2 separate regions of the Homo sapiens genome follow, and region 2 is linked to region 1. Evidence: fine-mapped QTL for protein levels in blood plasma. Region 1 holds a variant in brackets. A gene starts in the other region. All regions are shown on their forward strands.

The links. A credible set is the group of variants that fine-mapping cannot tell apart. PIP is the posterior inclusion probability: the model's chance that the variant is causal. Protein levels are from antibody-based Olink assays in UK Biobank. Linkage for the fine-mapping came from a reference panel and not from the study's own genotypes, which makes the PIPs less certain.
Region 2: ENO3 starts here. The variant in region 1 is the best candidate, but not a certain one, in a credible set for the plasma level of the ENO3 protein (UK Biobank, PIP 0.68).

The regions. Positions count from the first base shown.
Region 1 is chr12:7,614,999-7,620,532 of GRCh38, forward strand. No RefSeq gene overlaps it. Among named protein-coding and RNA genes, the nearest start is that of APOBEC1, 48 kb to the right of the region's middle. The variant G/A (reference allele first, on the strand shown) is at 2,182.
Region 2 is chr17:4,950,502-4,952,692 of GRCh38, forward strand. It overlaps ENO3 (enolase 3), which reads left to right and starts at 618. Exons shown (of 12, transcript NM_053013.4): 1 at 618-681; 2 at 1,327-1,413. The coding sequence starts at 1,329. RefSeq lists an enhancer at 1,150-1,884.

The DNA.
Region 1 (5,534 bases):
GGGGAAGGGGAAGGGGAAAGAAAGAGAGAAAGAAAGAAAGGAGAAAAGAAAGAAAAAGAGAGAGAGAAAGAAAGAAAGGAGAAAAGAAAGAAAAAGAAGAGAGAGAAAGAAAGAAAAAGAAAGAAAGAAAGAAAGAAAGAAAGAAAGAAAGAAAGAAAAAGAAAAGAGGGAAGAAGGAAGGGAAGAAAAGTTGAACTCAGAGAAATAGAAAGTAGAAACGTGCTTCCTAGGAGTTAGGGGTTTGGGGAAATGGAGAGATATTGGTCAAAGTGTGCAAACTTGCAGTTATAAGATGAATACATTCTGGAGAGCTAATGTGCTACACAGGGATTACAGTTAACAACTTGTTCTATACTTGAAATTTGCTAAGAGAGGCCTTAAGTATTCTTATCATAAAAAAGGTAACTGTGTGAGATGATGGATATGTTAATCAGCTTGATAGAAACAGTCGTTTCACAATGTACTTCAAAACGTCAACAGTGTACACCTTGACTGTATAACATTTTGTCAATTACACCTCAATAAAGCTGAAAAACATACGTACTAAAATAAAAATAAAGACATCTTATTTACTATATGTTGTTGATTCATTAACATTGAACTCATGGCCAACTGCACTATTGCTCATGCCCAAACAAAGCTTATCTAATACATATTTTCTCTTTAAAGCATGTCACAGACTTCTCGCACTTAGGAACACTATATAGGACTCTAGTACTGGGCTTGGGGATCATTTTAAACAGCAAAGTCACCAATAAAGGCACTCTCTCAGCCCACATCTTTCTCCTGTGTTGGATGCTTCTTGCCCTCGAACATCAGACTCTAAGTTTTTCAGCTTTGGGACTTGGGCTGGCTCTCCTTGCTCCTCAGCTTGCAGACAGCCTATTGTGGGACCTGTGATCATTTAAGTTAATACTTAATAAACTCATATATATTTATATAATAAACTAATATACATATAAACTCATATGATAATATGAATTCATTCGTTTTGTGTTATATATTATTACATTAGTTTGTTAAACTCATATGAGTGTATTATATAAACTCATATATAATACTCATAAACTCATATATATATGAGATATATATATGTATCCTATTAGTTCTGTCCCTCTAGAGAACCCTGACTAATACAGGCACAAAAATGAAAAAAAGTATCACCCCTAATAAACCACGAAAAAGACACAAAGACACAGACATAAGTAAGAAGCCAGTTTCCCCTTGTTCACTCTCAGCTGGGAATGTGCCCACTGACAGACACAAATTTTTTGCTGCTCTGCACATTTTCATGAATGACCTTGAGTATTAATTTTGGAGTTACAATCTTAACAAGCACGCATATTTGCAAATGCAGTATCCATGAATAATGAGAATTGACTGTACATGTAACTAGCCCCAGAGTTCTAATCTGTCATCTGGGTTTTGGATACAGTATCTTCTTCTTTTTTTTGAGACAGAGTCTTCCTCTGTTGCCCACCTCAGCTCACTGCAACCTCCACTTCCTGGGTTCAAGTGATTCTCGTGCCTCAGCCTCCTGAGTAGCTGGGATTACAGATGCATGCCACCATGCCCGGCTAATTTTTGTATTTTTAGTAGAGTCAGGGTTTCAACATGTTGTTCAGGCTGGTCTGTCTGCCTCGGCCTCCCAAAGTGCTGGGATTACAGGCATAAGCCACTGTCCCCAGACTGGATACCTTATCTTATCATGCCATTAGGGCCAATTGTCATATTATCTCCAGGCAAAAGTGATCAAGCATCAAATGTGCACTCTTACATTCCAACTATGGAGTGATAACCAGACTGTTAGTCTGCACAGGCTGTAATATCTCTGATATTACAAGCTCTGAAGGCAACTGAGCATGGCAATTCTGGCCATGGTCTACAACAGCATAATAGAGATCATCTGGCTCAAAATTTAAATTTAGCTCCTATACTGTAATCACCTTGAGAGCAAAAATCCCTTTGTGTCCATCAAGACTTATTACTCAAGGCCTTGTATGGTGTCTAACAGACCAATTGTTTTAGTATAATATGACCATGACTGCAGAAGGCTTACTGTACCTCCTTTCATGGGTAATAGGTGTCCCATTTAATAGAATTATTCAAAACCTTAATAGGCACACTTCAAACTGAAATTCCACGAACTCTGGCAGCTACGTGAAAAAAGTTTTAAATGAC[G/A]TGGAAAGAAGACCACTGTTACTTCTCAAGTCATGCCATTCCTAACAGTTCACTTACTTCCCATGAGCCCCAGATTCCACAGTTGCTTGGCTTGTAAGGCCATTTATTTCCTGAAAACAATTTTCTTTTCTGAGAAGATACATTAGCTTCAATGCAATTTGTTATGGAATCATACTAAAAACAGGATAGATTCTGATTCCAAATTGTTGTTAATGAATTAAAAAGCTGAGGATTTCCTTGTATCTTTGAGTGACATTCTTCTTCAAGTCTCATCACCATCTTTATGTCTCTTTGCAAGATGTAGTAAATTATTTGGGAAAGTTTTGGATCAGAGAAAGTTGTTCTCAGGCTCATGTCATTTTCTTTTCTGTTTAGAAATTCATGAAAGACATTTTAAGAAACAGAATGAGAGCTATTCTTGGAATCATGGAATTTTAAAGCAGGAACATAAATTTTGACATGATTTTTATATAATATATTACATAATTATATAATTACTATTAACCTTATTTTATTTATTAATTTATTGATCAAGACTCAAAGAAGTTTTCAGCATGGTTCAAACTGTGGAGTGATGACGTATTGAGTCATTAGCAGCTAGTGAAAGCCTTTTAGCTGTTGGTGACCATTAATAAAAAATAACTACAAAGCATTACAAAAGAAAATAGAGTACGTCACATATAATCCTGGTAACTACAGTTTTATAAAACTTTTATTTGTACTTTATGAAAGTGTATGTGTGTGCCATACACATGTATGTGTGCATTTGTGTGTATGCACTGGGCCATGCTATTTCTTACTTTGGGCTGTCTCAGTCAAAAAAGTACAAAAATCACTGATCTAAATGAATTACTGATAACCCAAAGGAAATAAATAGTGTATTAGGAAATTGAACACAGGTTGCCTACTCCACATTTGGTACAATTTGTTCTGTACCAAAATTCAGAAAGATATGATAAAACTGTAATTTAAGGGATTTGGTATATTAGATTTATGAAGTCAAAATAGAGAAAACACTATAAAGTACAATAATCAAAATGATTCCATATTTCCAATAATTTTATAAATTATTAGTTTGAGTGTAGATTGAAGTATAAATTGGCAGCTCTTATCAAAATTTAATTATGCATACCTTTTGCCCAAAAGTTCTATTTCCAAGTACACTTTAAGAGATATGCTAATATGTAAGCATATATCCACAAGGATGCTTATTGCAGTATTTATTAAGCAAGGCAATAAAGGGAAGAAAAAGGAGACTCATGCAGTATCCATCAATAGGTGTCACTGTGGGACAACACAAAAATTGAAATTAGGCGTTAAGGTTTCATTCTGTAATAATCAATATTTTTGTTAGAACTCGGTTGAGGCCGGGTGCGGTGGCTCACGCCTGTAATCCCAGCACTTTGACAGGCCAAGGCAGGTGGATCACGAGGCCAGGAGTTCGAGACCAGCCTGGCCAACATGGTGAAACCCCGTCTCTACTAAAAATACAAAAATTAGCCGGGTGTGGTGGTGGGCACCTGTAACCCCAGCTATTCGAGAGGCTAAGGCAGGAGAATCGCTTGAATCCAGGAGGCAAAAGTTGCAGTGAGCCGAGATCGTGACACTGCACTCCAGCCTAGGTGACAAGAGCAAGACTCCATCTCAAAAAAAAAAAAAAAGAAGAAGAATTCGGTTGATAAAATATATGAATTAACTCTTTTGTGTATGCTTGTATCATTCTCTTACCAAAAAGACTTTGTGCAGACATGCCTATCTTAACCAGACCCATTTATGTATAACCTTGAACTGTGAAGGCCAGGATCTGTAGATAAAAGGATATATAAAATTAAGTTATTCCAAGTATTTAAATAGAACTCTGTTTTCTGTTGGCCACAGTGATCTATTTTACATGTAGGAATTTCTGCCACACAATATAAAATTGTTCAGGTATATATACTACCTTGCCTCAAAAAAATCCAAATTGACACAGATATATAATTTAAACCGTGATTTCAAAACTCAGACTATCACATGGTAAATATGAGTAGATGCTGAGGAAGAACAGGTGCTATATTTTTATAGCATCCATATGTTTTTTAGCCAACAGATACAACAGATATCTAAATCTAGAAACTTTTTTCTCCATGACTTCCCCAGGGTAAATAAGTATACAAGGAGTAATGGCAGATGAAAATGTCCTCCTCTAATTTTCTTTTTACTTTCCTAGTAGCATTTTGTCTTGACTACTAAAAGAATATATCTTCTAAATTTTTTTTTCTTTTTTAGTTTTTAATGACTGCCTTCCACAAGGAGCTGCCTCAAATACTGAAAGCTTGGTTTTTCCTCCAACTCTGAGCTTTGTTGATTCCTAGGGCCAGTGATTCCTGAAACGAACCTATTGCAGAGAGGGGCCTATTAAGTTTGATACTTAATCCTAGCATTAAAGTTACATAGGAAATATAGTTAGAGTTATATAAGGAATAATTCCCTATAACTTTTCTCTATCTCCCAAGAAAATAAAACAAGCCATATATAGTAAGTGTTCTCATTTCTCTACGTTAGCTTCACCTGCATCTGTAGTTGAAACAGTCTGGGCCTTTGAAACTTACAATCATTATAAAGATTTACATAATAAATAAGCCAGAGACAACTTTTTTTTACTCTCAGTCTTTAACTTAAAAGGTTGTTATTTAGCTTCACAAGGATATTATAATATAGATATTGATCAATTTTCAAAACGTTTTGATGGTACTAATTCAAGTACATTGTACTTGAAATTTGATTCACAAATTTCTGAGCATTGCCCATAGTATAAACCTGGCTGGGTATATATATTGAAGTTTCTTGATTTAAACGTATGAAAATTGTGTCAGTTTTTAAGCTTAATGAAGGTATGGCTCATGAGTATAATATATCTTCAAATGAGATTAACACACAAATTGACTTTTCTATGGTCATTGACCTTGATTAGTTATGCTTCTCTGGCTTTTGGTCAGCTGTGGAAATTATATAAGGGTTGCAGTTTAGGTCTTCATAGTTTTTGTATTCATAACTTCAGTAATATTGATGGCCTATGTTTTTTAGACTCAAAGAAGGATTTTAATAATTGATAATTTATTAATTTTAATAATATAATAATATTCATCCAATACATTAGTTAGCGGCTAAATATCTTAACCAACTGGCTTTACTCTACTTTTCCCTCCCTGGAAAAAAAAATGCAGAAGTGCCCCCCTACCGCTGCAGAATTGAAGCTGCTCCTTTAACTTTGCAAATTCAGTGTGAAATTTCACCTCAGGACTTGGTGAAAAGAGGTTTAATCTCTGTCTTTAGATTTATAGACTAATGCTCACTCAGCCATTTTTACCTTG
Region 2 (2,191 bases), not on the chromosome of region 1:
GGGCGCCTTGCCAGCCGAAAGGGCCTGTCTAAATTCGTTTCCTGTCCCCTAACTCATCCCGGCGCTGGCTGGCCTGGAGAGGGTAGGATGGGGCGGCGCCGAGAATGGCCGTTATGAGGACCCTAAGAGGTGAGACCCTCTCGCCTTCTGGGGTGGGGGGTCCCGTCCTTTCCCCCACTGAGGACAGAGGCCCGCCCAGCGATCTGAGCATGTGTGGACGTCAATCTTGCAGCCCCTCTTCCAGGCCCCCTCCCCAGCCTTGCAGGGCTCAGGTTACCCCTGGCCTTTCCTAAAGGTCACTCATTCCTCTTGACGTTTGCAAAAGGGGAATGTAATCCTGGGGTGGGGGGAGACCCCTCATCTGTAGCCCCTCCCTTGCTCCTCCCAAAGGGTGGAATTAGAACAGGGACTGTTATTGGGAGACAGAAAGTGGGGGATAGTAGTTGACCTTTGGTAAGGGGGCAGGTGCCCAGGGCCAGAGGCTTCTGCTTCAGGCTGTAGTGGGCACTTGGCTGCCAGCCCAGTGTGAAGGGGGGAGGATGGAGAGAAAGAGAGGCGGGGCTGGCTGGGGACCGAGTGGCTCAGGGATAAATGCGCAGCCTGAGAGGGGGTGAGCTGACACTGTCCCAGCTGCCACCTAGACTCGGAGCTCCATCCAAACCTCCAGCGAAGACATCCCAGGTCGGGTGAATCTTCCAGCCCTGGGGGTGGAGGTAGTAAAGGGTGAGCATGGTATTGGCTTGGAGGAAGTGGGGGACATTTCTGCTTTTTTTCCTCCTGGGACTGGAGATGCTTGAAAAAGCTGGGGGAAGGGGCGGCTGGAGCAAGCAGATGGGACAAACTCTGGGAACACCGAAGGATCTAGGGAAAGGAGGCTGTGAGGAGGGCAGCAGGGATGGATAGAAAAGGGCAGCTAGAGCTGGAACCTGATAGGGAATTGGGGGCCCAAGGAGATTTCGGAGCAGGAAAATGAGAACCAGAAAGGATTTGAAGGCCACCAGCCATGGAGAACAGACTGCTTGACCAGAGGGGTGGAAGGAGAAGGCCTAAGTGGAGGCTTGGGGGAGGTGGGGGCTTGGTGAGCGGTGGCATCCCAGGAGCTATAGATAAGAGGCCCCTGGATTCTTAGGATGGGAGGGTGGAATAAGAGCTGTTCTGAGTGGGGGAGGGGGCTGCGCCTGCCTCTTTGGTCTGTGACCTTTTTGTAGGGTATTTTTAGCTCCAGCACCTGCCTTCTTGGAGTGGGGAAGAATCTTAAAGGGCAAGGGATTTCTGGTTCCTTAAGAGATCAACTGTCTACACTCACTCACACCTCCTGTCCTGCAGCCATGGCCATGCAGAAAATCTTTGCCCGGGAAATCTTGGACTCCAGGGGCAACCCCACGGTGGAGGTGGACCTGCACACGGCCAAGGGTAACACAAGGCCCATTGGATAGGCTCGCCTCCGAAGACCCCAACCCTTTGGCCTTTGCCCCCCAGTTCTGTGCCATATCCTCTCCTTTCTCTCGGGTTCCCTTTCCCAGACTTCTTCCCAAGCCCCCTTCTTCCAACGTGGAACCAGAGCTGGAAGCTAGGAGAAGCAGGAGTCTCTCTCTGCACTGCCTCCTGTCCCTGAGCTCAGAGAGGACACCTCAGCCCTTTGAGAGGTAGAGAGACTCCCTGTGAGGTCCTTTTTTTTGTTTTGTTTTGTTTTGAGATGGAGTCTCGCTCTGTGGCCCGGGCTGGAGTGCAGTGGTGCAATCTCAGCTCACTGCAACCTCTGCCTCCCGGGTTTAAGTGATTCTTGTGCCTCAGCCTCCCAAGTAGCTGGGATTACAGGCCTGTGCCATCACGCCCAGCTAATTTTTTTTTTTTTTTTTTGAGATGGAGTCTCACTCTGTCGCCCAGGCTGGAGTGCAGTGGCGCGATCTAGGCTCACTGCAAGCTCCGCCTCCCGGGTTCACGCCATTCTCCTGCCTCAGCCTCCCGAGTAGCTGGGACTACAGCTAATTTTTTGTATTTTTAGTAGAGATGGGGTTTCACGGTGTCAGCCAGGATTGTCTCGATCTCCTGATCTCGTGATCCGCCCGCCTTGGCCTCCCAAAGTGCTGGGATTACAGGCGTGAGCCACCGCGCCCGGCCTCAGCTAATTTTTGTATTTTTAGCAGAGACGGTTTCGCCATGTTAGCCAGGCTGGTCTTGAACTCCTGAT